Homo sapiens: one gene and its partners. The protein of the gene in region 1 purifies or fractionates together with the protein of each later gene. This does not show direct contact. Each region holds a gene or a part of one and is shown in the gene's direction. Other genes may lie near its edges.

Region 1 (4,096 bases):
CATGGCAACCTCCACCTCCTGGGTTCAAGCAGTTCTCCCTGCCTCAGCCTCCTGAGTAGGTAGGATTACAGGTGCCTGCCACCACCCCTGGCTAATTTTTGTATTTTTAGTAGGGACAGGATTTCACCATGTTGGCCAGGCTGGTCTCGAACCCCTTACCTCAGGTGATGCACCTGCCTCGGCCTCCTAAAGTACTGGGATTACAGGCATGAGCCACTACGCCCAGCCTAAAGATTTTTTTAATACAGGGGAAATTATTAGAAATTTCTGGGTTTCCAACATTCGAAAGCTTTTGAAAGGTGATAAAGTATTATGATGAAATCATTAGTCTTCTCACTGAAGTGAAGATTAAGGTAACACATTCATTTGTAGTATTAAGAAGTATTGTAAAACAAAAATCTTCCCAGGCACAGTGGTTCAGGCCTATAATCCTAGCACTTAGGGAGGCTGAGGCAGGAGGAAGGAGATCACTTGAGGCCAGTAGCTCAAGACCAGCCTGGGCAACATAGTGAGACCCCCTGTCTGTCTGTTGGTCTGTCATGTTCGTTTGTTCTCTCTCTCAAGACATAGGGTCTTGCTGTATTGCCCAGGCTAGTCTTGAACTCGGGCCTCAAGTGATTCTCCCACCTCGGCCTCCCAAAATGCTGGAAAGGCATGAGCCACTCTGCCTGGCCCGAGACCCTGTCTCTTAAAAAAAAAAAAAAAAAAAATTCTAGGCCCAGTGCGGTGGCTCATGCCTGTAATCCCAGCACTTTGGGAGGGCAAGGCAGGCAGATCACCTGAGGTTAGGAGTTAGAGACCAGCCTGGGCAGCATGGTGAAACCCTGTCTCTACTAAAAATACAAAATTAGCCAGGTGTGGTGGCGCATGCCTGTGATCCCAGCTACTTGGGAGGCTGAGGCATGAGAATCACTTGAACATGGGAGGCAGAGGTTATAGTGAGCCAAGATCGCGCCATTGCACTCCAGCCTGGGCAACAAGAGCGGAAACTAGATCTCAAAAAAAAAAAAAAAAAAAGATATAATAGCAGTTGCAGTTTGAGTGCTTACTATGAGCCAAGTTTCATTTAATCTTCACAATAACCTTCTGAGTTAAGTGTCATTGTCCTCACTTTGTAAATTAGGAAACTTGAGGCTTTACTAGGTTAAGTTGTACTGGGAACTGTGCTGTAACCACATAGCACACGTCTCTAAATGGGGACTTACAATTAGTTTGAACTAATATAGGCCAAGCCAGGGGTCAGCAGACCTTTTTAATTATTTTTTTTCAGATGGGGTCTTGCTTTGTTGCCCAAGCTGGTCTTGAACTGCTGGACTTAAGCCATCTTCCCGCCTCAGCCTCCCTAGCAGCGGGGACTATAGGCATGCACCATCACCCCTGGCCAGTAGTCCTTTTCTGCGAAGGTCTTAACCAAACGTTTTTGGTTTTGTGGGCCATACAGTCTCTGTCCCAGTTGCTCATTACTCAGTTTTGCTGTTGTAGCACAAAAGCAGCCATAGATAATAGGTAAGTGAATGAATGTGTCTATTTCAATAAGACTTTATGGACACTGGAATTTGAAGACTTTTTTCTTTTTATTCATTACTTCCTGCACAGTGATAATTTCTTTTGGGCTGGGGGGACAGGTTCTCACTATGTGCCCAGGCTGAGTGCAGTGGTGCAGTCGTAGCCCACAACAGCCTTGAACTCCTGGGTTCAAGCAGTCCTCCTTCCTCTGCCTCCTGAGTAGCTGGGATTACAGGTGTGCACCACCACACCTGGCTAATTTTTAAATTTTTTGTAGAGACGGGTCTCACTATGTTGCCCAGGCTGGTCTCAAACTCCTGGCCTCAAGCAGTCTGCCCACATAGGCATCGCAAAGTGCTGGGATGACAGGCATGAGTCACTGCACCTGGTTGGAATTTGAATTTAATATAATTTTTACATGTCTCAAAATATTATTCTTCAGATATTTTTAACCTTTTAAAAATGTGAAATTCATAGGCTGGGCACAGTGGCTCACGCCTGTAATCCCAGCACTTTGAGAGGCTCATGCGGGTGGGTCACCTGAGGTCAGGAGTTAGAGACCAGCCTGACCAACATGGAGAAACCATGTATCTACTAAAAATACAAAATTAGCCGGGCATGGTGGCCCATGCCTGTAATCCCAGCTACTCGGGAGGCTGAGGCAGGAGAATCGCTTGAACCCAGGAGGCTGAGGTTGTGGTGAGCTGAGATCACGCCATTGCAATCCAGCCTGGGCAACAAGAGCGAAACGACGTCTCAAAAAAAAAAAAAAAAAAACAGCGAAATTCATTCTTAGCTCAAAGGCAGTACAAAAACTGACGGCAGGCCAGATTTGGCCCACACGCTATAGTTTGCAGCCCCTGTGCTAAATCATAAAAGTATTTTTTCCTGGAAGGTCATAGTTATTCATACTGTGAATATTATTTAAGAGAGCATTGAAGATTGTTTTTATATTAAAATGGAACCCGTTACCTTATGGAATAAAACCCAGAATTTAATTTTCAAGATAAAACTTGGAGGCGGGGGCCGGGCGTGGTGGCTCACGCCTGTAATCCCAGCACTTTGGGAGGCCAAGGTGGGCGGATCACGAGGTCAGAAGTTCGAGACCATCCTGGCTAACACAGTGAAACCCTGTCTCTACTAAAAATACAAAAAATTAGCCGGGTGTGGTGGCAGGTGCCTGTAGTCTTAGTTACTCGGGAGGCTGAGGCAGGAGAATGGCATGAACCCAGGAGGCGGAGCTTGCAGTGAGCAGAGCTCATGCCACTGCACTCCAGCCTGGGCGACAGAGCGAGACTCCGTCTCAAAAAAAAAACAAACAAAAAAAAAAACAAAAAAAACTTGGAGACGGCTGTGGTGGCTCACATCTGTAATCCCAGCACTTTGGGAGGTTGAGGCAGGCGCGTCACCTGAGATCACGAGTTCGAGACTAGCCTGGCCAATGTGTTGGAACCCCGTCTCTACTAAAAATACAAAAAAAATAAAAAATTAACCAGGCGTGGTCGCACTCCTGTGTTCCCAGCTACAGGGGAGGCTGAGGCAGGAGAATAGCTTGAACCTGGGAGGAAGAGGTTGTAGTGAGCCGAGATCGCGCCACTGTACTCCAGCCTAGCGACAGAGCAAGACTCTGTCTCAGAAACAAAAACAAAAAAACTTGGATTCTAAAGATACGTTGTTCTGTAGATGGTCTCTGGACCGTACTTTCCTCCTTTCTCCTCAATTTCATTTAGAGCATAAAAGCACTTTCTTAGGCTGTTTGAAGCACTTGGATTGGAAATGTTGCCTGCAGTAACCTGTATAAACATCAATATATCAATAACAGATTATTAGTGCAAAATTTAAATGTCCAAAAACTGAAAGGGAATAATGATCGGTGACTGGGTCTATGAAATTACAAAAGTAAAGCCTAAGGGAGATGGCAAGCTTTCCTATTCTGCTACCCTTGTCAGCTGATGTCTTGGTAGAATTAATAAAGTACTCTTTTTAAACTCAAAAACATCTGTTTTGAATAATACTTTTTTTTTTAACACCCTACCTTTGAGGTAACTATTGTTAATAGTTTGTGTATATCCTTCTGGAATTCTTCTATTCCTGTAGACCTTGCAGATACTTTTTTTTTTTCTACTTGCAGTTATTTTTATTTTTTGTTTTTTGAGAGTGTCTTGCTCTCTCACCCTGGCTGGAGTGTGGCGGTGTGACGATAGCTCAACCTCCTGGGCTCAAGCAATCCTCCCACCTCAGCCTCCCAAGTAGCTGGAACTATAGGCATGCGCAACCAAGCCGAAATACTTTTTTTTTTTTTTTTTTTGTAGAGACGGTTTCACCATGTTGCCCAGGCTGGTCTTGAGCTCCTGGGCTCACGCGATCCTCTTGCCTCTTAAAGTGCTGGGATTACAGGCGTGAGCTACTGTGCCTGGCCATGTTGTGGTTTCAGTACACACTTACCTAATGACTAATCATATTGGATATCTTTTCATGTGCTTATTACCCATTCGGAAAAGTTCTTTTGTGAATATTTTGGGCCCCCTCCCCCCACCTCTTTTTTTTGAGAAAGGGTCTCTGTTCCCCAGGCTGGAGTGCAGTGGCACAA
Region 2 (4,096 bases), on another chromosome or scaffold:
TGCATTTTGCTAGAGGGTCCTCCTGACCCTCCTCCCCATCAGGCTTGCAACATTTAAATTTATACTTTTAGGTTGAGCTGAAAACTCTATTTTTCTACCCGAAGATCCTTCCCAAATGCTCCCTTATTCTATGAACTCCCTAGTTTTCTCCTTTAAATGCACAGCTCCAGGTTCATCTCAACCAGGATGTCTTATTAGGCTAGCCCACTGTATTCCAATCAGGCTAGCATCTGCTGTAACTCTCCATTCATGCCAGCTAGTATTTACTGAGTACTTGCTATAGGCCACATGTCCACATGTCTTTATAGGTGTTATCATGTTTAATCTCTACAACATGTGAGGTTGGAATTTTCATCTCATTTAAAGATGAAGAAATTGAGATTTAATGAGGTGACATAAGTTACCTAAGATTACAAAATGAGTAAGTGGGGCTGGGTCAGATGATGCAGGAATTGGAGAGGCACTGTGGGACATTGGTTTACAGTGAGGTGGGTGCAGGGTTGTCAGAGGACAATTTGCAGGATTCCTCTGTATCTCTGCAATGGAATCTGACAGTGTGTCTTCTGACAGTGTATCTCTTTTATAAAAAGAGGCAGGTGGAGAGAGAACCATCCTACAGTAGAATAGACTGCCTGCAAATGAGTGAGCTCCCAGCCCTGGAGTGTTCAAGCAGGGGCTAGATGGCCATCTATAAGGAATTCTTGCCCTGATGGGCCAGATGGACTGCATGACAAGGTCTAGAGTCCTTTCCAATTCTGAGTTTCTGGTGATTTCATAATTATATTTATTACATGTCTAGGACAGTGCCATGCACTGTGGGTCCACAAATATGTAGAACATGGCCATTGCTTTCAAATTGTGTATGACTATAATTAAAGGGGCAAGGCAAGATAATATCTAACACAATGTAAAGAAGACTGTATAAGTCAGAGCTAAACTGAAATGTACAGATTCTAAGTACATTAAGAGTTTAGATTGGGGCAAATCAGACATATATGATATATTTTAGGAAGGCAAATTTCAAGATATTCAGAGAAAATGAATTTTTATATCTAAGAGGAAGAATGTTCAGGCTTGGCTCAAATGAGACATTCAGAAATGATTTTGTGATAATTCAACCCAAAATGACCCTTATGAAGAAGAGGTCACACAGGAATCACTTTGATGAGCTCATATGTGTACAAGGCAGAAAGGAAGCCACATACCAAGGATGACTTTAGATGAGAGGTGCAGACACTGCTCCAACATCTAATAATCCACCATAGCAATCCACAAGTGTCAGGCGCTTTGGATAGACTGGCTTGTGCACCCCGTGAGTAGGAGGCTACCTCTCTATCCTTGTTTTGTAGGTGAGAATGAAAGCTCAGATAGGAGATCAGCTTTTCTGGCCCCACGTCCCCCCTACTTTTTATTCCGCCATGCTGCTTCTCAAAATGTGAAATGTGCCAAGGCTCAGAGGAAGAAAGCGTAAGAAACAAGGAAGGCCCAGGTCTGTTACCACATAATGGTGAGGAAGCTGAAAAACTCAGGGCTTCAGTTTGCCCAGCTGGAAAGAGTGTGATAATCATCCTTGTTCCAGCTTCTTTATCAGCCAGCTCTGTGACTAGGAGCAAACAACTTGCCTCTCTGTACTTTAGTTTCCTCATTGGTAAAATCGGGGCAGTGGTGCCTGTCCTGTCTACTACATTATGTTTTCGTAAGGATCAAATAAGATAATGTAAGTTTACACTCTTTTTTTTTTTTGAGACAGAGTCTCGCTCTGTTGCCAGGCTGGAGTGCAGTGGCGCAATCTCGGCTCACTGCAAGCTCCGCCTCCCAGGTTCAAGCCATTCTCCTGCCTCAGCCTCCCGAGTAGGTGGGACTACAGGTGTGCACCACCACGCCCAGCTAATTTCTGTATTTTTAGTAGAGATACAGTTTCACCATGTTGGCCAGGATGGTCTCCATCTCTTGACCTCGTGATCTGCCTGCCTCGGCCTCCCAAAATGCTAAGATTATAGGCGTGAGCCACCATGTCTGGCCAAGTTTACACTCTTTAACAATTCTTAAATATTGAATAACTGTGAAGAGTTTTTATTAAAGGAAGCGTCAGGTCAACAGAGCCATATTAAAAGCTTTCTGAATTCTTCATGTAATGCCTTAAGTAGGTAATAATACCTTTTTTTGACATATGCCAACAATGATAATGGCAGCCACATAGCATAATGGTTAAAACATGGGCTTCAGGCCAGATTGCCTGGGTTTGAGGCCGGATGCAGTGGCTCACACTTAAAATCCCAGCACTTTGGGAGGCTGAGGCAGATGGATCACTTGAGGTCAGGAGTTCGAGACCAGCCTGGCCAACATGGTAAAACCCTGTCTTTACCAAAAATACAAAAATGACCTGGGTGTGGTGGCAGGCACCTGTCATCCCAGCTACTCAGGAGGCTAAGGCAGGAGAATCGATTGAAACTGGGAGGCAGAGGTTGCTGTGAGCCAAGATCCTGCTACTGCACTCCAGCCTGGGTGACAGAGCAAGACTCCACCTCAAAAAAAACAAAAACAAAAACAAAAAAACAGATTGCCTTGGTTTGAATCCTGGCTCCATTTCCATTCAGTAGCACTTTATTTTCAGGCAAGTTATTTAACTTCTCTGTACCATAGTTTTCTCATCTGTGAAACAGGTATACAGTTGTTTTGAGGTTAACATGAGTTAATACATGTAAAGCATTTAAGCTGTACCTGGCATACACAATAATAAATGTGTTCAATAAATGTTAGTCACTGTTATTAAAGTATGAAGGATAACAGATTTGACATACTTGGCAGTAATTCAAGGGAGCAGAAGGCAGCATAGCGCGTTAATTACAAGCACAGACTCTAGAGTCAGACCTGAGTTGAAATCCTGGCCCTTGCACTTGCTAGTTGTGTGACATCAGGCAAACTACTTGACCTCTCTGAGCCATGGTATCCTCATCTACAAAACAGAGTAATAATTCCTACCTCACAGAATTATTGTGGAGATGAAATAAAATAATGCATTTTAAGAGCTCAGCAGGTGCTGTCTGGAATAAGAGTTCGAAGTACTGTCATTGAGAGTGTACTTCCAAGTTACTGACAAAAGCTTGATTTTTAGATTACTGGTATAAACCAAAAATAAAATTCAGAGGCCCCCCAACCATCTGAATGGATTTCCTTCTCAACCAGGGCTCTTTTAAAATTTAACCTGAGAGACTGTTTCAGGCCATGATGGGAAATGGGGGTCAAACATGCCTCAGTATACCTCTCTGGCATTAACATCAACACAGACTTTAAGTATGATAAGAAACATTTTACAAACTCTCCTCTCTAAAGCCTAGTACCTCAAGGCTTCCTCTGCAAACAGTAACTTGGGTTGCCACAATCCTTTATCTTAACCCAGGCATTCCTTTCTGTTGAACCTAGGTTTTTTGTTTTTTTTTTTTCTGAGACAGAGTCTCACTCTGTCGCCCAGGCTGGAGTGTAGTGGCGCGATCTCAGCTCACTGCAAGCTCCACCTTCCGGGTTCACGCCATTCTCCTGCCTCATCCTCCCGTGTAGCTGGGACTATAGGTGCCCGCCATCATGCTTGGCTAATTTTTTGTAGAGACGGGGTTTCACCGTGTTAGCCAGGATGGTCTCAGTCTCCTGACCTCATGATCCACCCACCTCGGCCTCCCAAAGTGCTGGGATTACAGGCATGAGCCACCGCGCCCGGCCGACCCTAGGTCCTTAGATAAGCTCAACCAATTGTCAGAAAAATTTTAAATCAACCTATAAGCTAGAAGCCCCCTGCTTCAAGTTGTTCCATCTTTCTGGACCAAACCAATGCATTTCTTAAATGTATTTGATTGAAGTCTCATGTTTCACTAAAATGTGTCAAACCGAGCTGCACCCTGACCACCTTGGGCACATGTTCTCAGGACCACCTGAGGGCTGTGTCATGGGCTGTGGTCACTCATATTTGGCTCAGAATAAATCTCTTCAGATATTTTACAGAGTTTGATTTTTTGTTGACACTGGCAAGTTTATCCCATGCTAAACTTTTACTATGGGTTGGGTTTTGTTTTTTTGTTGTTGTTGTTTGTTTTTTGTGTGT
Region 3 (4,096 bases), on another chromosome or scaffold:
TATACTAATTTGCCTCCACTTTTGAAACCTTCCTCAAGATACTACCTGGTGCATGAGACTAGTGGGCTCTCAAAAACCTTGTCTTTTCTTTTTTTTTTTCAGGTTTAGGAGGAAGGCTTCTGAAGAAATAGAAGAGTACGTTTCCAGTATTCTTATTCTTATGGTATCCTATGTTGATCTTGGTCAACAGTGCAGTCTTGGTGGTCATGATCTGTTCCACCTATGTTGAACACTGTGTTAGAAGTCTGGGGCTAGAATTATTGATGCCTGCTGAATCCAAGGTTTGGTTAATCCCGCTTCCTCAACTGAAGGTCTGGACCCTGGCATTGATGCCCATGTCCTATCTCCCACTGTGTGGTTTTAGAATTATATGTCCAGGTATCAGGGTACTGGCCCATGCCTTCTGCATTATTGATATAGATGGGCAGAAGCAATACCAGCTTCTAAGCCTTGCCTTCTCATAAGACTTATATCAGAAAAGAAAGAAGTTTTCTAGATAAAGGTGCTGTGAAGGTAGGGCCACCCAGTTTCCTACTCCCAGGGGCGGAAGCTGCATTCATGTCATAGCCTCTGTGATGCTGTCCTCTGGAATAGTGCATCGCACAGCCTGTGCAACCACACACGGCACACCCAGTGGCCTAATTAGGTTTGACTAAGTTGACAGAGAAAAACAGGTTCAGGGACATTTTCATCTAGGAGAAAGAATGGATACAATAAACATTTGGGATGTTCCTTTCCGTGTTTGAAACTCATTTTTTGCTGTCCTTTTCTTCTTTTTTGGGGGCAGTTTCCGCCTCAGACCACAGAGCCTGAATGGATCAGATTATGGAGGAGGTAAGAGGCCCTTGGAGGAAGTCAAAAGGTCTTCTAGAGAGGCCCCAGAACATTTCCTGGGCTACAGCTAAGGCACTGTTGGCTGCAGCATCACTGAAGACATTTGCAGTGGTCTTCTGACGCATGCTGATGCACATCTTCATGCCTTGCTGAATGCTGCCACCTCTACCTGGAGTATCTCTCCCTTCTTTATCTGATAACCCTGCTTATCCTTCAAAAGGTCAGCCAAAGCATCACTTCCCCTGAAACATCTTCCCTTCCCATCCCACTCCCTCTCTCACTGGATGTTCTTTCTCCATGCTCCTCTAACCTCCTTGGCAAACCAACATTGTAATAACATGGCCAATATTTACTAGGTGTTGACTATATCCCAAGCACTGTCCTTCCAGTTTACACATGTTAAAGCATTTTCTCTCACCACAACCCCGTAGTACTACTATTATCCCCATTTTACAGTTGTGGAAACGAAGGCATGGAGAGGTTAAGTAAGTTGCCCAAGGTCACACAGTTGCTAAGTGAGTAGAGCCAGGATTTGAGTACAGTTAGGATGTACTGTGCTTTAACTCTTTGTTGGCTTGATTGTTTTCCCACCAGACCTCTAAGCTTCTTGATGGCAGACAACACATGTTCTTTATCTTTGCATCTCCAGTGTGTGACGCATAGTAGTTAGTTAATGGCTAGCTATATAAACGCAGGGAAAACAGTACTAACAAGGCAAGTAGCTGTGGCACAGTGGAAGCCTATGTTCAAATATCAGGAGAAAAGATGAAGTTTGTGTGTGTCTCTAAAATGAAGCCTTCTAGGGAGGAGATTACGTAGGGGATCCAAATTATTATTGTTATTATTATTATTATTATTTTTTGAGGCAGAGTCTCGCTGTGTCACCCAGACTGGAGTGCAGTGGTGCAATCTTGGCTCACTGAAACCTCTGCCTCCCAGGTTCAAGTGATTCTCCTGCCTCAGCCTCCCGAGTAGCTGGGGTTGCAGGTGCATGCCACCACACCCAGCTAATTTTTTGTATTTTTAGTAGAGATGGGGTTTCACCATGTTGGCCAGGCTGGTCTCTAACACCTGACCTCAAGTGATCCTCCCACCTTGGCTTCCCAAAGTGCTGAGATTACAGCCGTGAGCCACCGCGCCCGGCCCCAAATTGTCAAAGCCTTTTTTTTTTAGACACACTTATTTATAATTTTCACACTCCTTGTTTGTTTGTGTAGATCCTAGTTTCTATCTGGCATCAGTTTCCTTCAGCCTGAAAAACTTTATCATTATTTTGTAGAACAGGTTGTCTGGCAAGAAATTCTGTCTGCTTTATTTGTCTGAAAATGTCATCTTCAACTTTTTACCAGACACAGAATTCTAGGCTGACAATTTTTTTCTTTTAGCATTTTAAATAGTTATTTTATTGTCTTTGGCCTTCTTTCTTTCTTCCCTCCCTTCCTCCCTCCCTCCCTTTCTTCCTTCCTTCCTTCCTTCCTTCCTTCCTTCTTTTCTTTCCTTTTCCTGCTCTCCCCTCCCCTCTCTTTTCTTTTCTTTCTTTTTTTTGAGACAGGGTCTCACTCCATCGTCCAGGCTGGAGTGCAGTGCCATGATCTTGGGCCCACTGCAACCTCCACCTCCTGGGTTTAAGTAATTCTCCTGCCTCAGCCTCCTGACTAGCTGGGACTACAGTCACATGCCACCACACCTGGCTAATTTGTGTATTTTTAGTAGAGACAGAGTTTTACCATGTTGGCCAGTTTGGTCTCAAACTCCTGACCTCAAGTGATCCACCCGCTGTAATAGGTGTGAGCCACCTCGCCTGGCCTACATTGTTTCTGATGAGAAGACGATCATTATTCTTATCTTTGTTCCCCTGTATGTAATGTATCTTTCCCCCTATCTGCTTTTAAGATTTCTTCTCCATTATCAGTTATTTTCAGCAATTTGTTCCTAATATGCCTTGGTGTGGTTTTCTTTGTGTTTATCCTACTTGAACTTCTTCAGTCTGTGGATTTATAGTTTTCATCAGATTCAGAAAATCTTAGCCAATATTTCTTTAAATATATTTTTCTTCCCTCCCACTCCTTCTAATTCCAAGTTTGTATGCCCACACAATTGTCTCCACAGGTCATTGAGGCTTGGTGTTTTTTGTTTTTAGTCTACTTTTTTTCTCAGTGCTTCAACTTGGATCGTTTGTATTGCTGTGTAACTGGTCTTTTCTTCTACAATGTCTAGTCTGCTTTTAAGCCCATCTAGTGGATTATTATTTCACATATTTTTTTCAGTTCTAGAAGCTCCATTTGGTTTCCTTTTGTATATCTTCCATTAATCTTCTCATTCTGTGTATGTTTTCTTTCATCCTTGATAGTAGCCTTTATATAGACTGAGTATCCCTTATCCAAAATGCTTAGGACCAGAAGTGTTTCGGAGTTCAGATTTTTTTCAGATTATGGCATATTTGCATTATGCTTATCTAGTTGAGCATCCCAAATCCCAAAATCCAAAATCTGAAATCCTCCAATATACATTTCCTTTGAGCATTATGTCAGTGCTCAAAAAGTTTTGGATTTTAGAGCATTTTGGATTCTCAGATTAGGGATGCTCAGCCTGTACTAGCTCTTTTCATGTTCTTTTGCTGCTAATTCCATTATATCTGTCTTTTCTGAGTCTGTTTCTATAACTGATTTTTCTTCTGGTTACAAGTCATATTTTTCCGCTTCTTTTTTTTTTTTTTAAACAGAGTCTCACTCTGTTTCCTAGGCTGGAGTGCAGTGGCTGTATCTCGGCTCACTGCAAGCTCCGCCTCCTGGGTTCATGCCATTCTCCTGCCTCAGCCTCCCAAGTAGCTGGGACTACAGGTGCCTGCCACCACGCCCAGCTAATTTTTTGTATTTTTAATAGAGACAGGGTTTCACCATGTTAGCCAGGATGGTCTCGATCTCCTGACTTCGTGATCCGCCTGCCTCAGCCTCCCAAAGTGCTGGGATTACAGGTGTGAGCCACCGCGCCCGGCCTGTTTTTCTGCTTCTTTACATGATTAGTAGGTTTTGATTGGATGCTGGACATTGTGAATATCATTATGTTGAGTCTGGATCTTGTCTTCCTTTAAAGACTGATATACAGACACTCTTCAACTTACAGTCTGGATAAACCCATTGTGAGTTGAAAATATTGTAACATAAATCAAAATATCATAATCCATAACCCCCTCTTGAGTCAAGGACCACATTGAACGTGTATTGCTTTTGCACCATCATAAAGTTGAAAATGCGTTAAGTCA
Region 4 (4,096 bases), on another chromosome or scaffold:
CTAGTCTTTTGACGTCTCTAAGCCTCATTTTCCTAATCTATAAAGGAGACATAATAATAATACTTAGTGGGTAGGGTTATTAGGGTAAGAGAATTTATGCAAAAGACTTAGCACAAAGAGTTACCTATTGTAAGTACTCAGTTACCTCTGTCAAACTATGCTATAGTCATTTGTTTCCTTATCTGTCTCTTCCACCTTCCCCAATTGTGACTGCCTTAAGGACAGCAACTGTGGTTGATTTTTGTATCATGTTTCCAAGCATGTAACGAGTTCAGTAAATGTGTGTTGGATGAAAAAATGGATAGGTGAATAGATAAATGGATGAATGAATAGATAGATGGATGTAATATATTCACTCATGTAGAGGTTCCACAAAAAGTTTAATTGGCATTTATGTTCATGTTTTAAACCAGAGGTCGGAAAACCTTTTGTGTTAAGGTCCAAATGGCAAATATTTCAAGCTTTACGGGCCATAGGGTCTCTATCGCAGCTACTCAGTCTGGCTGTTGTAGCAGGAAAGTGGCCACAGACAATCCATTAAAGAGTGGGCTGGGCCGGGGACGGTGGCTCACACCTGTAATCCCAGCACTCTGGGAGGCCGAGGCGGGCGGATCATGAGGTCAGCAGATCAAGACCATCCTGGCTAACACGATGAAACCCTGTCTCTACTAAAAATACAAAAAATTAGCCGGGTGTCATGGCATGCGCCTGTAGTCCCAGCTATTCGGGAGGCTGAAGCAGGAGAATAACTTGAACCCAGGAGGCCGAGGTTGCAGTTAGGTGAGATCACGCCATTGCACTCCACCCACCCTGGGCAACAGAGTGAGACTCCGTCTTCAAAAAAAAAAAAAAAAAAAAAAGAGTGGGCTGATCAGTGACTTTGTTCCACTCAAGCTGTATTTTCAAAACAGCACCTGACTAGATTTGGCCCATAAGCCATAGTTTGCTGACCCCTGTTTTAAACTTCTAAATTTATAGGAATAGAATACTAATTTTATTAGACTTATATGAGAACAAAAATAATATTCATCTATGTGTGAAATAAAAAGAAATAAATGAATAGGATTAGCTTAGTTAATTGAGTAGGCTTATTACAGAGTAGATTCAGATTAATAAAAGAAATTTAGGGAAAAACATTTATCTGTAAAAAAAGGAAGAAAGCTTAAGTGTTTTTTCATTACTTGTAAATGACAATTACAGGTTAAGAAATGTTTTAGACAGTTTATCTGGGGCACGCTATTAGATGACATGTAGTCTGAAAATTGCCTAACATGTGGCAAGTGGAACATTCTGATTAAGCTTATGTTCTTACATCCCAGGTTTTCTGATGCTTGGGAAATGTGCAGGATTCTGAATGATGAGGCTGCCTGGAATGAGTTGGCCAGAGCTTGTCTACATCACATGGAAGTGGAGTTTGCAATCCGTGTTTATCGGAGAATTGGAAATGTTGGCATAGTGATGTCCTTGGAACAAATAAAGGTAAACAGCATGTTATAGAATTATCAAGTTAAAATTTAAATGCTATTTTAAGTTAAATGCAGTCTAAATTTTTTGCATTTAATCTTACCTCTTAAACAAGTGAATCGATAGAACGTTACCACTTCCTACTGATCAAAGTCCTTAAAAAAAAAAAAAAGTTAAACTCTTGCATTTTTTTTCTCATCAGAATTGCTTTTATTTGTAGGGAATAGAGGACTACAATCTTTTGGCAGGACACCTTGCCATGTTTACCAACGATTATAACCTGGCTCAGGACTTGTACCTTGCATCCAGCTGTCCTATTGCTGCCCTGGAGGTATGGCAGCAAGTAAGAATGGAAATTGTGTAAGAGGTATCCAGTGGGGAAATGGGGGAAAAAAAAATGGGGCCGGGTGCAGCCGCTCACGCCTCTAATTCCAGCACTTTGGGAGGCCAAGGTGGATGGATCGCCTGAGGTCAGAAGTCCTAGACCAGCCTGACCAATATGATGAAACCTCATCTCAGCTAAAAATACAAAAATTAGCCGGACGTGGTGGCATGTGCCTGTAATCCCAGCTACTCAGGAGGCTGAGACAGGAGAACTGCTTGAACCTGGGAGGTGGAGGTTGCAGTGAGCCTGTAATCCCAGCTACTGTAATCTCCTGCCCCAGCAGGAGAATTGCTTGAACCTAGGAGGCAGAGATTGCAGTGAGCCAAGATTGTACCACTGCACTCCAGCCTGGGTGACAGAGCGAGACTCCGTCTCAAAAAAAAAAAAAAGGAAAGAACATAAGAATATCAAAGGAGGATCACCCCTTCTATATAATTAAAATTTCTCAGCACAGACACTATATGCCTTCCCCCTCCTAAAATTCAAACATGTCAGTTTAAGAACCCCTGAGTACTCATTAATTATAATGTTAATCATTAAAATTATAATTCAAAAATGTTTATTCTGCATTTTGTGGAGGTATAAAATGCATGGTATTATAACATTACTAATTGAAATCTAAATGTGTCCAAAGAGAACAGATTGTGTAAATTACAAAAACATATACAAGGAAAAATATCACCATATATTGAGTGCTCATGTGGGCCAGGCATTTTTCTAAGCACTTATCATGTATTAATTCATTTAACCCTCCCAACAATCCTATGAGATAGGATTGGTTTTTTCTCTATTTTCCAGATGGGAAAACCGAGGCACATTTATCCTTATTGTGTGAAATTCTGTTGTGTATTAAAAGGTGAGCTAAGGACTAGTGTACCATCACTGGTTTCCCAGAGGTGAGCATTGCAGGAGAGGGCCTAGAGCAGGATGAAGGGCCTGGTTAGTTCAAGGGCAGGGAAGAAGGGAAACCTGGCAATATAGACTAGCAATGAGGGGCATAGACTTCACAGTCAGACATGTCTGGGTTCAAATTCCAGCTCTGTGTAAGCTTGGACATGTTATTTAACCTTTCTGAACCCTAGATCCTATTTCTTTAAAGTAGGAAGAATAATATCTAACCCACGGGATATTTGTAAGGATTTAAAAATGAGAATGAGGTCTTTTAGCACAGTGCCTGATCAATAGTAAAGACACATAATTAGCTATTGTAATCATTAATATTATTTCACCTAAAACTGGCATTTCTACAACTATGTAAAAGAGCTTGTTTTGGGAGCGTTTGTTATTAATTTTACAACTTTCCTTTTACAAATCATTCTATAGCAAATTTTCATTTTTAAATTTTAAGTGAACTAAATTAACTTTGTTATAAGAAAAATTTAGGTAATTTTACAGTATTATTTAAGATAATTGGGACACCCTGAGAAGTTTTCAAAACTTGGATTAGTACTCACTGAAATAGGAATATGGCTGCGATGACTGAGGGGAAATATATCATCTCAACTCTTTTGCATTTAACTGTGGGCACTTGTCATGTGCTGCTAGACTTGGAAAGGATTTGAGGTAATGGATTGATAATGGAGAGGGGTGATTACTCTTTAACCTCACTTTGAAAGCTGATGAGTTAACCAGGTGAAGAGTTCAGAGGCAGAGCCCTACTGCCCAGCTCTGTCATGTACCAGCTGTGTAACCTTATATACAGAGGAGCCTCTGTTTGCCTCAGTTTCTGGATCTCTAAAATGGATACAAGAAAGTATTAATAAATTGCAAAAGGGTAGTTGTGAAAGATAAATAAGCTAATCCCCTAGAACAGTATCTGGCAGATAATAACACTTGAAAAATGTTAGCTATTATTGTTTAGGAAGTATGAATAAAGTGAGGAATGAACTTTAAAAGATTAATGATGAGTTTATATTTAGAATTATGTACCAGGCAGAGAAAAAAGACCACAGGAACATATATTTACATTTTAGTTACATTTGCTATTACTCTTGTGATAGAGCTTCAGATTTTCTAAGAAAAACACACCAATTCCTATAGCAAAGTGTTCTCAACTTTTTAGAATCACTACCTTCTAAAAATAAAAATTAACTTTAATTTAATTGATTACATTAATTTAATTTGATTACTCCTTGCTGAGAAAAATTAAATACTAAGGACTAAGATTTTGTTAGATACGACTGAGTTTTGGAGGGCCACAAACCATTATAATAGCTAAGATTTTTTTGCCCCTCCAAGAATCAATTT
Region 5 (4,096 bases), about 55 Mb from region 1:
TAGGTTTGAGAATTATATGTGAGTAAGTGATCATTAAAACCATGGCTATAGATACGATTATTGTAGGGAGGTTGTGTGCAGTGAAATGAAAAGAAGGTTGAGGACAGAACCTAAAGGAACAAGTGAAGAAATGAGCCCATAAAGGAAACTAAGAGTAGATGGACACTTTTAATTATTTATGCCATGCTACATTCCATACGGGATTCGACGACAGAGAGGAGGGGAATCAGGAGGGTGGTATAATAAGAGCTGAGGATGAGGAGACTTTTAAGGAGAGACTGGTCAATAGGATCAAGTGCCACAAAGCTGAAATATGACAATGACTAGAATACTTACTAGATTTGACAACTGAGGGATATGGGGGAGATTTCAGAGGAGAAATGAGGTATAAACCTGATTTCAGTGATTCAACGTGTGAATGAGAGACAGGAAATGGATTTCTTGCTGATTACTTTCCTGAGAAGGTTGGCTGTGAAGAGAAAGAGGCAGCAACACAGAAAGAGAGATGGTAAGCACTGAAGGAGTAATTTTTGTTTTTTAGAGACAGGATCTCACTGTGTTCCCCGGGCTGGTCTCAAACTCCTGGGCTCAAGCGATCCTCCTGCCTCAACCTCCCAAGTAGCTGGGATTACAGGTGTGAGCCTGGCTTAACAGGAGAATTTTTAAAAAAGAATCCAAATTGTAGGCCGGGTGCAGTGGCTCACGCTTGTAATCCTAGCACTTTGGGAGGCCGAGGTGGGCAGATTGCCTGAGTTCAGGAGTTCGAGACCAGCCTGGGTAACACAGTGAAACCCCGCTTCTACTAAAATACAAAAAATTAGCTGAGCGTGGTGGTGTGCGCCTGTACTCCCAGCTACTCGGGAGGCTGAGGCAGGAGAATTGCTTGAACCTGGGAGGAGGCGGGGGTTACAGTGAGCCTAGATTGTGCCACTGCACTTCAGCCTGGGCAACAGAGTGAGACTCCATCTCCAAAAAAAAAAAAAAAAAAAATCCAAATTGTAGGCCATCATGCAGACTTTTTTTTTTTTTTAGGTATAAAAATCTGTATTTATATTACAGTGACAGAATGACACAGCACAGCCCAACCCAATGCAGACATTTTAAATTATGGGAATCTAGCCTATGAAGAAACACTGCTCTAGATAAAATGATTTCATTGATAAGATATAAGTTGTAATCCTGGTTCTGTGCCACTTGCATATAGAAAGGGTCTAAAATAAGGATAATAACACTTAACCTTCCTCATCTCAAAGAATGATAAAGGTGAATTGAGAGATGACACTTAAAAATTAAGAGATGTACAAATGGAAGGAATCAGAGGAAAGGGGGATTCAGAAACGGCATGGATAACCTGGAGTGTTTTGGGGAAGCTTCCACCACTTTTGACTTTGTAATCTCTCTACTTGAAGTCCTCTGCTCTACCCTGGAATGGCAGTGTTTGAACTTCCCTGGGCTGTTTGTGTATCTGCTACTCAGCCTCTCCCCATTCCTTCCCCCTCTTTCACTGTAGTACATTGTGAAGTGCCATGGCAACACGCTTCTGCCCCAGTTCCTGGGGATGTACCGAGTCAGTGTGGACAACGAAGACAGCTACATGCTTGTGATGCGCAATATGTTTAGCCACCGTCTTCCTGTGCACAGGAAGTATGACCTCAAGGTAAGAAGAGGGTAGCTCGGACTTAGAGGGAGGCTCCTGATAGCCTGAGAATGGGGAAGACCCTGGGAGGTCTTTGGATGATTCCTTTTAAGGGAAAGAAGGCTGGGTTTGAGTACTCATCTTAGGGGCTGGGTTCTGACTGTTCTTTTAGCCACTTCTACTGACTTGGTGTTTGGGTCTTTCTGCAGGGTTCCCTAGTGTCCCGGGAAGCCAGCGATAAGGAAAAGGTGATAGTAATTTTATGTGCTAGGGTGAGGGATGAGGGATGAGGGAGGGCAGATGAGGGGAACTTCTTAGGATGGAGAGGCCACTCTATATAGGAATAGGGATTACTAGCTATTTATTATCTTAAACCACTTAAAAGAAGGGGGTAAACTTCTGTTGATCCGGGGATTGTTTGGAAGGGGCAGTGGGAGCAGCTGCTTTAACACTGGCATGGGTTATTCCATATGGAAGGCTTGGGGATGGGTGAGGTTGCCAGACTTGAAGAGCAAAGTGTTTAACTTCCACTTCCCATTCTGGGTTATTTTATTCAAGCAGCTACTTTTGCTTAAGAAGACACAGGCCGGGCATGGTGGCTTATGCATGTAATCCCAGCACTTTAGAAGGCCAAGGCAGGACTGCTTGAGCCCAGGAGTTCCAGACCAGCCTGAGCAACGTAATCTCTACCAAAAACACAAAAATTAGCCGGGCGTGGTGGCACGCGCCTGTAGTCCCAGCTACTTGGGAGGCTGAGGTGGGAGAATCACTTGAGTCCAGGAGGTCGCGGCTACAGTGAGCTGAGATCACACCACTTACATTCCAGCCTGGGCAACAGAGTGATCGAGATCCTATCTCAAAAAAAAAAAAAAAAAAAAAGAGGAGAAAGAAAAGTCAGCCTGGAGGGTCTTGGCTAAAAACCATAAGCAGAGAGTAGTGGGATGTGATTTGGGATACAGCTGTAGTGACTGAGTCTGTGGAAGTCACTGGAGGTGAGAACAGACCAGGGAAGCATCACAGTGTGGAGTTAGATGAGATCTAACTGAGCTAGCATAGAGCCCTAGACAGAAGGTGGGGTTCTGAGACCTTGGGGAAGGGATATGTTCCCAAGATGTCCCTTTACATATTCTTAGGTTAAAGAATTGCCCACCCTTAAGGATATGGACTTTCTCAACAAGAACCAGAAAGTATATATTGGTGAAGAGGAGAAGAAAATATTTCTGGAGAAGCTGAAGAGAGATGTGGAGGTGATGATTGGGTGCTCTGGGAAATGGCTTTCCTTTTTTTGCTCCCTAGAGGGTAGTTGTCTCTTTCATTCACGGTATGAGGGAGCTCCTCCCCTTCCCTTTATTCTTCAGGTCCTCTGCCTATATGGGGGTTTAGTATGAGACATGAAAAACCCCTGGAGCTGACCCGTGGAAGGGGTGGCTGGAATAAGCTAAAAGGATGATCTTAGATACTAGGACATATAGGCACTAAAGGCAGTGGTATGCCCTGCAACCTCAATTTTTATACTTCCTTTCCCCAGAAGGGCCCCAGAAATTCAAAGGTACAGGTACAGGGGTGATACCTAGCAGTGAAGAGTGAGAGAGAGGTGTCTGATTTGTCAGTGGGTCTCAGTTTCTAGTGCAGCTGAAGATCATGGACTACAGCCTTCTGCTAGGCATCCACGACATCATTCGGGGCTCTGAACCAGAGGAGGAAGCGCCCGTGCGGGAGGATGAGTCAGAGGTGGATGGGGACTGCAGCCTGACTGGACCTCCTGCTCTGGTGGGCTCCTATGGCACCTCCCCAGAGGGTATCGGAGGCTACATCCATTCCCATCGGCCCCTGGGCCCAGGAGAGTTTGAGTCCTTCATTGATGTCTATGCCATCCGGAGTGCTGAAGGTGAGAGAACCGGGACAATTTAAGGGTGGAGAGGGGATTTTTCCTGGAGGACAGAGACCAGAGTGCTGGGGGAGAGCCTGATTAGCTTTTCAGAACAAAACTGACTGCTTCCTGGAGAAAGGGAATTGGAACTAAACCTACTCTGAATTGTTGGTCTCTCTCCCAGGAGCCCCCCAGAAGGAGGTCTACTTCATGGGCCTCATTGATATCCTTACACAGTATGATGCTAAGAAGAAAGCAGCTCATGCAGCCAAAACTGTCAAGCATGGGGTGAGAGTTCGCAAAAGCCTTTCCTTTCCTGTCTTGACTATTCTTTGGGAATAGAGTCTCTTGTGCCAGAGCAATGGGGTGGCAAAAGAATGGAGGTGGTCTGGGGTAGATTGGGTGGGGGTGATGGGGACGGGTGCTAGGGTGGCCTGACATATTGTTCCGTATCTCCTCTCACAGGCTGGGGCAGAGATCTCTACTGTCCATCCGGAGCAGTATGCTAAGCGATTCCTGGATTTTATTACCAACATCTTTGCCTAAGAGACTGCCTGGTTCTCTCTGATGTTCAAGGTGGTGGGGTTCTG
Region 6 (4,096 bases), on another chromosome or scaffold:
CCTCCAACTTTTTTTTCTTCGTTTTTTTTAGGATCGTTGCATTTTAAATGCATTTCCATGTATAACTTAAAATCAGGTTGTCAATTTCTACCAAAAGCCTGCTGGGATGTTCACTGGAATTGTATTGAATCTAGAGATCAATTTGGGAGAATTGACATCTTAACAATGCCGAGTCTTCAGTGTATGAATATGATACACTTCTCTATCTTTATTTCTCTCAACAGTGTTGTTTGATTTTCATTGCACAGACCTTGCACAAAGAAATATAACTTATATTGACCTTTCGTCTTCTGACTGCAGTAAATTCACTTTAATTCCAGCATCTTTTTTGTTGATTCCTTAGAAATTTTTGCATACACAATCATGTCATTTGTGGATAAAGACAGTTTTACTCATTCCTTTCTGATCTATATGCCTTTATGTTTCTTTTTGTTACACAGGCTGGTACCTCAACTACAGTGTTGAAAGTGGTGTGGAGGGACATCCTGTCCTTACTCTTAATTTTTTGGGGAAAGCATTCAGTCTTTTACCATTAAGTATGATGTTAGCTGTAAGTTTTTTTTATATTCTTAATATGTTTTCATAAACCTACCAAGTTGAGGCACTTCTCTACCCCTGGTTAGGCGAGAGGATTTTTTTTTTTAAATCATGAATGGGTGTTGAATTTTGTCAAGTATTTTCTGCAGTTATGGAGATGCTCATATGATTTTCTTCCTTTATTTTGTGACATAGCTAATAACGTTGTTTTTGTTTTGTTTTGTTTGGGAGACAGGGCCTCACTCCCTCACAGTGGCTTTGTTACAGACTGGCTTTGTACTGTAGTCCCCCCTTATCTGTGATTTCAGTTACCTGTGGTCAACTGCATTCTGAAAATACTAAATGGGAAATTCTGGAAATAAATAATTCATAAGTTTTAAATTGCACTCTGTTCTAAGTAAAGCACTGATGAAATCTTGTGCCGTCCTGCCCAGGATGGGAATCATCCCTTTGTCAAGTGTGTTGATGTTACATATGCTATCTACCGTTAATCGTTTAGTGACCATCCTGGTTACCAGATTGACTGTTGCAGCATGGCAGTAATTGTCACTGTGTTGCAGAACACAGTAATTGTGTCAAGTAGCGCTTATTTTACTTAATAGTAGCCCCAAAGCACAAGAGTAATGATGCTGGCAATTCGGATATGACAAAGAGAAACCATAAAATGCTTCCTTTAAGTGAAAAGGTGAAAGTTCTTAACAAGGAAAGGAAAGAAAATTGTATGCTGAGGTTGCTAAGATCTACAGTACCATCTACAGTACAGCACAAGATATTTTGAGAGAAAGACCACATTTACATAACTTTTGTTATAGTATATTGTTTTAATTCTATGTTATTGTTATTGTTCCTAATCTCTTACTGTGTCTTATTAATAAATTAAACTTTATCATAGGTAAGTATGTATAGGAAAAAACATAGTATAAATAGGATTCAGTACTACCTGTGGTTTTAGGCATCCACTGCGCTTTATGGAATGTCTCGCCTGTGTATAAGGGGGCACTACCATATAGAGAAAGATCTTTACTAGTCAGCTTGACTGCAGATTCTAGGGGCTTCGTAAGCCTTTTCTGTGGATGTGTCTTCCCTGGACTTGTGATTATAAATTTCCAAGCCGAGAGATTTGGTCAGTTTTTTCATTAGCTGCTGTTTTTCTCTCTCATGTGTCTGTCCATGGTATTGCAGGTTCTCCAGAGTTGCTGTAAGCCATCAGCCTCTTTTTTTGTTTTCAGCTGCCCTCAAGCATCTAAAGTATGCTGATCCAAAGCACCCCAAGTTGAGTGAGACAGAAACCATTCCCTTAGGCAGTCCTTTGAAAAGTTCAAATGTTGGTCACACACTCCACTATTCTCTCCCAGCCTCCCCTCCCAAGATAAGCCGCAGAGCTATATCAGCCTCTGTCTGCTCTATGGGTCCTGTGGATCAGTAGCAAGCAACCCAGCTTTTTTTTATTCTTAGCAGTCCCCAGTCACCTAGAACATGCAGGGTTCATGCTTAGTGGGGTGAGACAGAAGCCAGTCCTCTGGCCAGCTCTTGGAAAAGCTAGAACATTGGACCGTGTTTCCCTTCTTTCTCTCCCCAGGCAGAAAGTTGGGGGTTTCTCTTCCTTGCTGAGCCTGGGGGAGGCACACTGGCCAGTGAGTGTGGTACTAGTCCAGACCTTTGCTTTTGTTCTCAGTGGCCCTCAACCTGGTTCCCTTTTCTGTCAGTGTATAGATTCAGGCAGCTCAGAAACCAGTTTCTCAAGTAGCCCCCGCAATGTAAGTGCTAGTCTTCTGTTTCTCTCCCTAGGGATACATGTTGTTTGCTCACTTCTTCATGACTTATAGCTGTCACTTATGCCATTCTTTAAGAGGAAGTCAGTGGAGGGAAGTTTCAGTAATGATGATTTTTTATTTTATGAGCACTTTTTTTTCACTTGTGAAGTCTCAGTATTCAGTAGGCCTCTTCTACTAAACACCAGTTGTCACAAGTCCCGTCATGTCTAAAATTTGCTCTGGGTCTTTAGTGTTTTAATGACACAAAACCCCCAGGGCTGTAGTGGAAGCCAGGTCTGTCATGTTCTGGTATCATCTTGGATTGACTAGAATTGGTGATCCAGAATCCTAGGTATTTATTGTTGCTTCTTAGATTTTTCATGATTTATCATTTTTAAATCACTTTATTTTGTTTTGTTCTGTTTAGGTTTTTGGATATGAGTAATAAACACTACATTTGTAGTTCTGCAGGTACAAAGGTGTGAGTGGGGTGCCTTGGCAGAATGCAGGTCAATTAAATTGATCCAAATTTGTGCTATTAAAGAGTATTTTGGGGGCGAGAGGGAGCAGACTTACTCCAACCCATAAAACACCATTAAGTGAGAAATGGTCTTGCTAATAGACTAATATGCCCAAGTGCCAATTTTCTTTGCACTTGCTATAATTTTTCTCACTTCATAATGGAAGATGATCAAAATATTTAGCAATTGGCTGGCTTTCAAACATCAAAAGAGTCTAGCATCTTAATAGTAAAAAGGAAATTTCTAAAACTTAAATGAATCCTTGTCATGTGAAATCTTAAGGACTTTATGAAAGAAGGAACTTTTTAGAAAGAAACATCTAAAGTGTCCAGTTAAAAGCAAAAACCAGTGTGAAAAGAACAGGAGGTCCAAGAAAGCTGAAAAGGTTGGCATCTGCCTCCAGTTCTAATGTTAAGGGACAGTTAGTTGGTAAGAGAATAACATCCCTCCAACTAAAGACTAGCATTTCAGAATTTCCAGAAGTGCAGCTCTGCATAATTATATCTCCCTTTTGTGTGTGTAGCTATTTCTCTTCTCCTCTGCCTTGTTTCACAGTGCTACTTCATGAGAATATAAAAGAAGATAAACACGTTTATTATTTGCCTAATAGAATCTTATGTTGTCTCTTGAATTAGCAAAGGTTTCGTAAGGGGAACATTTCATATTTCAGTTTGTTTTAAAAAATGAAATAAAATTGCTTTTTACTTCTACACAAGCTTTGATTAATTTTTTTTGAGTCAAAATCCACAAAAGGAAAAAAAAAAAAGATTGCTGGCCAAGCTTTAAAATAGTGGTAATTTATCAGTGTCCACAAGCCAATTATTTTATCTAGGATCTTGCTTGGGATTAGAGATGCCCCCTCTCCCAAGGCTTGGATATTTCTGTGAAACTACTCTTTAATTCATTGTTGTTATTGTACCTTCCTCCACTCTGCCCACACATCTTTTTTGGGCTCTCTTGGATGGAAAGACAAATTTCATAGGTGATTTAAATGAAGCCCTCTGGGAATACATGAATTCAAAACTCTTCAGCTGTTCTTCTTTGAATGGAAGGGTTGTCATAGTTGCCCACTAGAGAATAAATTATGCTGGTCTGCAGCTTACCAGTACATATTTGGTAGTAGTCTAGTAGAGTGAAATTAAGCCTAGGGCTTGATCTACTTAGGACTCCATATCTGGTTCTCCTCATTTCAAAAGAAAAGAAGAGGAAAGATATACAAGATTATGCAGAAGAGAAAGCAGTAGCCTTATTATAAATACTAATTTAAAAGGTACATGTGACCTT
Region 7 (4,096 bases), on another chromosome or scaffold:
GTAGGCAATCCTCTCACCACAGCCTCCCTAGTAGCTGGGACTATAGGCACACAATCATGGCTTTGTAGAATTTTTTAAATAGCTGCTGTGAATGGGAAGATGGATTTTTTTCCCATATTTCTTCTCATTTGCTTTGCTAAGATAGAATTATGCTATTTTTCTTTCTTAATTATTATGTAATCTAGCCACTTTGGTGAGCAATTTCTTATTAAGTTAGTGGTGTTTTTGCTTATTGTTTTGAGTATTCCAGAAGCAAATAGATGTTATTTCGCCTTTCTGAAGATACGGTTAAGTCTGGGTTCTTGTCACGGAGCCCTTCTGGGCAGTTTCCCACTTCACCTCTGCCTCCTCCAAAGTGCCAAGCACGCAGCAGGTACTCAGTGAGTGTCCTCTGAATGAAGGTAAAGGAACCGCTTGGCTAAGGTCATTCCTGGCCCTGGGTGGCAGCCCTTTGATTCAGGATCTGCACCTCAGTCTTACCAGAGGGCTGGGGGCTTTTAGACCCAGGTGTCTGATTCAGGCTAGCCACCTCACAGACACTTGCCGCCCATTTCCATCTAGAGGGAAAGCAGGGGCCAGTCACCCTAGGGAGACCCCATTCAGGACAAAAGAAGCTTAGAAAAAGGACCCAGCGGAGGCTATGGCCATCCAGAACGTCTTGCTCTCTATCCAGCCAGGCTGCCTGAGGCGTGCCCTTCCAGGCTTGGAACCCTGTCTCCAAGGAAGGGGATCCAACATCAGACACAGCCCCTCTCCCCAAGTGTCCAAGATCCAAAGGGGGAAAATAACAACTGTTTCTTATTCTCTTCCCTTTATTCCTATACCCTATAGAATTGCCCACATTTATTAGTATTCTGTTTTTTAATTTCAAAAAAAGGAATACATTCATACATTCACAAGGCTCAAACATAATCTAAAAAGGTATGCAGTGAATGTCTTACTCTACCCTCATTCCACCCATCCCATAGCCACTTTTATTAATTTGCATGTCCTTTTAATATTTATTTATTCAAATACAATCAACTATGAAGATATTCTTATTTTTCCCCATTCTTACACAAAAGGTAGCATCTGATACACACATTTCTGCACCTTGATTTCTAACTTAAAATATATATCATAATAATACAAATAGTTAGCATTTATTGAACACTCATTGTATGCCAGTCATTTTTCAAACTTTTATCCATATATTAACTCATTTAATCCTTCCAGTACTCCTATTATTAACCTCATTTCTCCATGGAGAATTTTCCTTATCAGTATATAAAGAGCTTCCTCAATGGCTTACAGCTACATAGTATTCCGTTGTATGGGTGGATCATAATTTATGTAACTAATTGCCTTGTGAGGGACACGTGGGTGGCTTCTAATTCTTTGCTATTGTGGACTGTGCTGCAGTGAATATATTGTATGGATATCATCTTGTTATGTGTAGAGATAGAGCTGCAGAGCAGATCCAAAGAAAGAGGATTGCTGGGTTAAATGCATTTGTAATTCTGATGGGTATTGCCAAATTGCCTTCTGTAGAGTTATTAGTTCTTTTCATAATTGCTTAGTATTTCTAATTAAACGTAGCATTGATGAGCACTATGTATCAGTCTGGCTGGCTAGTAGGCTCTCTGTTGGTGGTTCCAGAACAAGTTGATCTCAGTGTAGTCCCAGATGAGACCCTTTCTTCTGGCCTCAGGTGGGCTGACTTATTCCTTTTTTTTTTTTTTTTTTTTGAGATGGAGTCTTGCTCTGTTGGCCAGGCTGGAGTACAGTGGTGCAATTTTGGCTTACTGTAACCTCCACCTCCTGGGTTCAAGCAGTTCTCCCACCTCAGCCTCCCAAGTAGCTGGGATTACAGGCGCACACCACCAAGACTTATTCTTATCACTGCCGGTGAGAGTAAATTACAGCAATATTTCTGGGGAACTAACAGTATTTTCCCTGGTAATATTTGAAGAAGCAGCCTTGTAATGGTTAAGAACATGGACTCTAAGCTGGACTGCCTGGGTTTTTATATTTTCTTTCGCTGCTGTAACAAACTACCACAAATTTAGGGGCTTAAAACAATGTAAATGTATTCTGTTATGGTTCTGGAGGTAAGAAGTCTGAAACAGGTCTCACTGAGGTATATAAAGGTGTCAGCAGGCTTTGCTCCTTTGGGAGGCTCTCAGGGAGAACGTTTTCTTGCCTTTCCCAGCTTCTAGAGGCTGCCCACATTCCTTGGTGCATGGCCCCTTTCTGTCTTCAAAGCCGGCAACATCACAACATTCCCACCTCTGCATTCATCACATCACATCTCCTCTCATTCTCCTGCCTCCCTGCCCTTTCCTTTGAAAGGATTCACGTGATTACGTTGAACCCACCCAGATAATCTAGAATAATCTCTTTATCTCAAAGTCCTTAATTGAATAACACCTGCAAAGACCCTTTTGCCATAGTAAGGTGACATATTCACAGGTCTCAGGAATTTGCACGTGGACATCTTTAGAGGCCACTATTCTGCTACTACAGTTTGCATCTAGACTCTACCACTTACTAATCGTGTGATCTTGAACAAATTATTTTGCCTCTTGCACCAGTTTTCTCATCCTTAAAATGGGGATAATAATGGTATCTATTCCACTGGATTGTCAGGAGGATTGAATGAGTAAATATTTGCCAATGCTTATAATAGTATCTGAGACACAATAAATGCTATGGAAGTATCTGCTAGCTAAAATATATTAACCAGGCCAGGCACGGTGGCTCACACCTGTAATCCCAGCACTTTGGGAGGCTGGGGCGGGTGGATCACCTGAGGTCGGGAGTTCAAGACCAGCCTGACCAACATGGAGAAACCTCGTCTCTACTAAAAATACAAAATTAGCCGGGGTGGTGGCGCATGCTTGTAATCCCAGCTACTCGGGAGGCTGAGGCAGGAGAATTGCTTGAACCCGGGAGGCAGAGGTTGCGGTAAGCTGAGATGGTGCCATTGCACTCCAGCCTGGGCAACAAGAGCGAAACTCCATCTCAAAAAAAAAATAACCAAATAAAAATATTAAAATACAAACACTTTGATCTAGCAGGCCTATATTTATAATCTATTTCATAGGAACAAAAGCTTCCATGATTAGGCTATATAACTTGGATATTACTAAAGTGTTGTCCATATTGGCACCAAAAGAAAAAAAAAAGGAAAGGAAAACGAAAGAAAGAAAATGCACAAACAGGAAATTACCTGAATGCCAGCAAAACGACAGTGATTGAATCAATTGTGGCCCATCTGGGATATACCAGAGCTATTAAAGAGAATACATCTGATCTGTGCCTATGCACCTAGAGGAATGCTCTGAGTGAAAGTTCGTTGAGAGGAGGAAGTTCAAAGTAATTATATGACTTGATTTATTTCTTTCTTTTTTTTGAGACGGAGTTTTGCTCTTGTTGCCCAGGCTGGAGTGCAATGGCACCATCTGGGCTCACCGCAGCCTCCGCCTCCCGGGTTCAAGCAATTCTCCTGCCTCAGCCTCCTGAGTAGCTGGGATTACAGGCATGCGGCAACACACCCGGCTAATTTTGTATTTTTAGTAGAGACGGGGTTTCTCCATGTTGGTCAGGCAGGTCTTGAACTCCCGACCTCAGGTGATCCTCCCGCCCCGGCCTCCCAAAGTGCTGGGATTACAGGCGTGAGCCACCGCGCCCGGCCGATTTCTTTCTTTCTTTTTTTTTGAACAAACATCAGCCCCCAAAATTATTGTAGATATCTAGGTCAATCATTTAACATGTTCTGTTTCTTCCTCTGGGAAATATGTATAACGACAATTCTCACTCAAGGGGCTCTTGCAAAGGTTAAGTGGCATGGCTGACATGTGTCAAGTCTGTACCATCCTGCAAGCAGCAGCCCAGTCTGGCATTTGTGTAAGGCGGTTTCAGTGGAGAGATGTGTGGAAGGGTGCACCCCACGATGCTCACCTGGTGCTTCCTCGGTGGGGAAGGGAAATTCAGAAGTGGTGGAAAGAGATGATTGTCGTTTCGTATATCTTTGTATTGTTTCCCGGATGTTGAAATTGTTACTGTAGTAACTTTTTATACTCATGTGTTATTGGTAGTTTGGATACTATCACCA

The links.
Region 2: the proteins of TULP3 (region 1) and IFT122 purify together in Homo sapiens (co-immunoprecipitation; 7 studies listed by BioGRID and IntAct, with this or other methods). This does not show direct contact.
Region 3: the proteins of TULP3 (region 1) and IFT43 purify together in Homo sapiens (affinity purification with mass spectrometry; 6 studies listed by BioGRID and IntAct, with this or other methods). This does not show direct contact.
Region 4: the proteins of TULP3 (region 1) and WDR19 purify together in Homo sapiens (affinity purification with mass spectrometry; 6 studies listed by BioGRID and IntAct, with this or other methods). This does not show direct contact.
Region 5: the proteins of TULP3 (region 1) and PIP4K2C purify together in Homo sapiens (affinity purification with mass spectrometry; 3 studies listed by BioGRID and IntAct, with this or other methods). This does not show direct contact.
Region 6: the proteins of TULP3 (region 1) and RAD18 purify together in Homo sapiens (affinity purification with mass spectrometry; 3 studies listed by BioGRID and IntAct, with this or other methods). This does not show direct contact.
Region 7: the proteins of TULP3 (region 1) and PML purify together in Homo sapiens (affinity purification with mass spectrometry; 3 studies listed by BioGRID and IntAct, with this or other methods). This does not show direct contact.

What each region holds. Positions count from the first base shown.
Region 1 is NC_000012.12:2,897,082-2,901,177, forward strand, and holds part of TULP3 (tubby-related protein 3), read left to right. Parts: intron 1-4,096. UniProt on the Homo sapiens protein: Negative regulator of the Shh signaling transduction pathway: recruited to primary cilia via association with the IFT complex A (IFT-A) and is required for recruitment of G protein-coupled receptor GPR161 to cilia, a promoter of PKA-dependent basal repression machinery in Shh signaling.
Region 2 is NC_000003.12:129,442,798-129,446,893, forward strand, and holds part of IFT122 (intraflagellar transport protein 122 homolog), read left to right. Parts: intron 1-4,096. UniProt on the Homo sapiens protein: As a component of the IFT complex A (IFT-A), a complex required for retrograde ciliary transport and entry into cilia of G protein-coupled receptors (GPCRs), it is required in ciliogenesis and ciliary protein trafficking.
Region 3 is NC_000014.9:76,058,540-76,062,635, forward strand, and holds part of IFT43 (intraflagellar transport protein 43 homolog), read left to right. Parts: intron 1-102; coding exon 103-135; coding exon of another isoform or gene 136-229; exon of another isoform or gene 230-732; intron 733-787; coding exon 788-834; intron 835-4,096. UniProt on the Homo sapiens protein: As a component of IFT complex A (IFT-A), a complex required for retrograde ciliary transport and entry into cilia of G protein-coupled receptors (GPCRs), it is involved in ciliogenesis.
Region 4 is NC_000004.12:39,230,478-39,234,573, forward strand, and holds part of WDR19 (WD repeat-containing protein 19), read left to right. Parts: intron 1-1,319; coding exon 1,320-1,479; intron 1,480-1,684; coding exon 1,685-1,795; coding exon of another isoform or gene 1,796-1,828; exon of another isoform or gene 1,829-1,831; intron 1,832-4,096. UniProt on the Homo sapiens protein: As component of the IFT complex A (IFT-A), a complex required for retrograde ciliary transport and entry into cilia of G protein-coupled receptors (GPCRs), it is involved in cilia function and/or assembly.
Region 5 is NC_000012.12:57,597,555-57,601,650, forward strand, and holds part of PIP4K2C (phosphatidylinositol 5-phosphate 4-kinase type-2 gamma), read left to right. Parts: intron 1-403; exon of another isoform or gene 404-505; coding exon of another isoform or gene 506-508; intron 509-1,510; coding exon 1,511-1,657; intron 1,658-1,845; coding exon 1,846-1,884; intron 1,885-2,197; coding exon of another isoform or gene 2,198-2,248; exon of another isoform or gene 2,249-2,263; intron 2,264-2,769; coding exon 2,770-2,883; intron 2,884-3,256; coding exon 3,257-3,524; intron 3,525-3,690; coding exon 3,691-3,794; intron 3,795-3,971; coding exon 3,972-4,052; 3' UTR 4,053-4,096. UniProt on the Homo sapiens protein: Phosphatidylinositol 5-phosphate 4-kinase with low enzymatic activity. May be a GTP sensor, has higher GTP-dependent kinase activity than ATP-dependent kinase activity. PIP4Ks negatively regulate insulin signaling through a catalytic-independent mechanism.
Region 6 is NC_000003.12:8,953,298-8,957,393, reverse strand, and holds part of RAD18 (E3 ubiquitin-protein ligase RAD18), read left to right. Parts: intron 1-4,096. UniProt on the Homo sapiens protein: E3 ubiquitin-protein ligase involved in postreplication repair of UV-damaged DNA. Postreplication repair functions in gap-filling of a daughter strand on replication of damaged DNA.
Region 7 is NC_000015.10:74,018,581-74,022,676, forward strand, and holds part of PML (protein PML), read left to right. Parts: intron 1-4,096.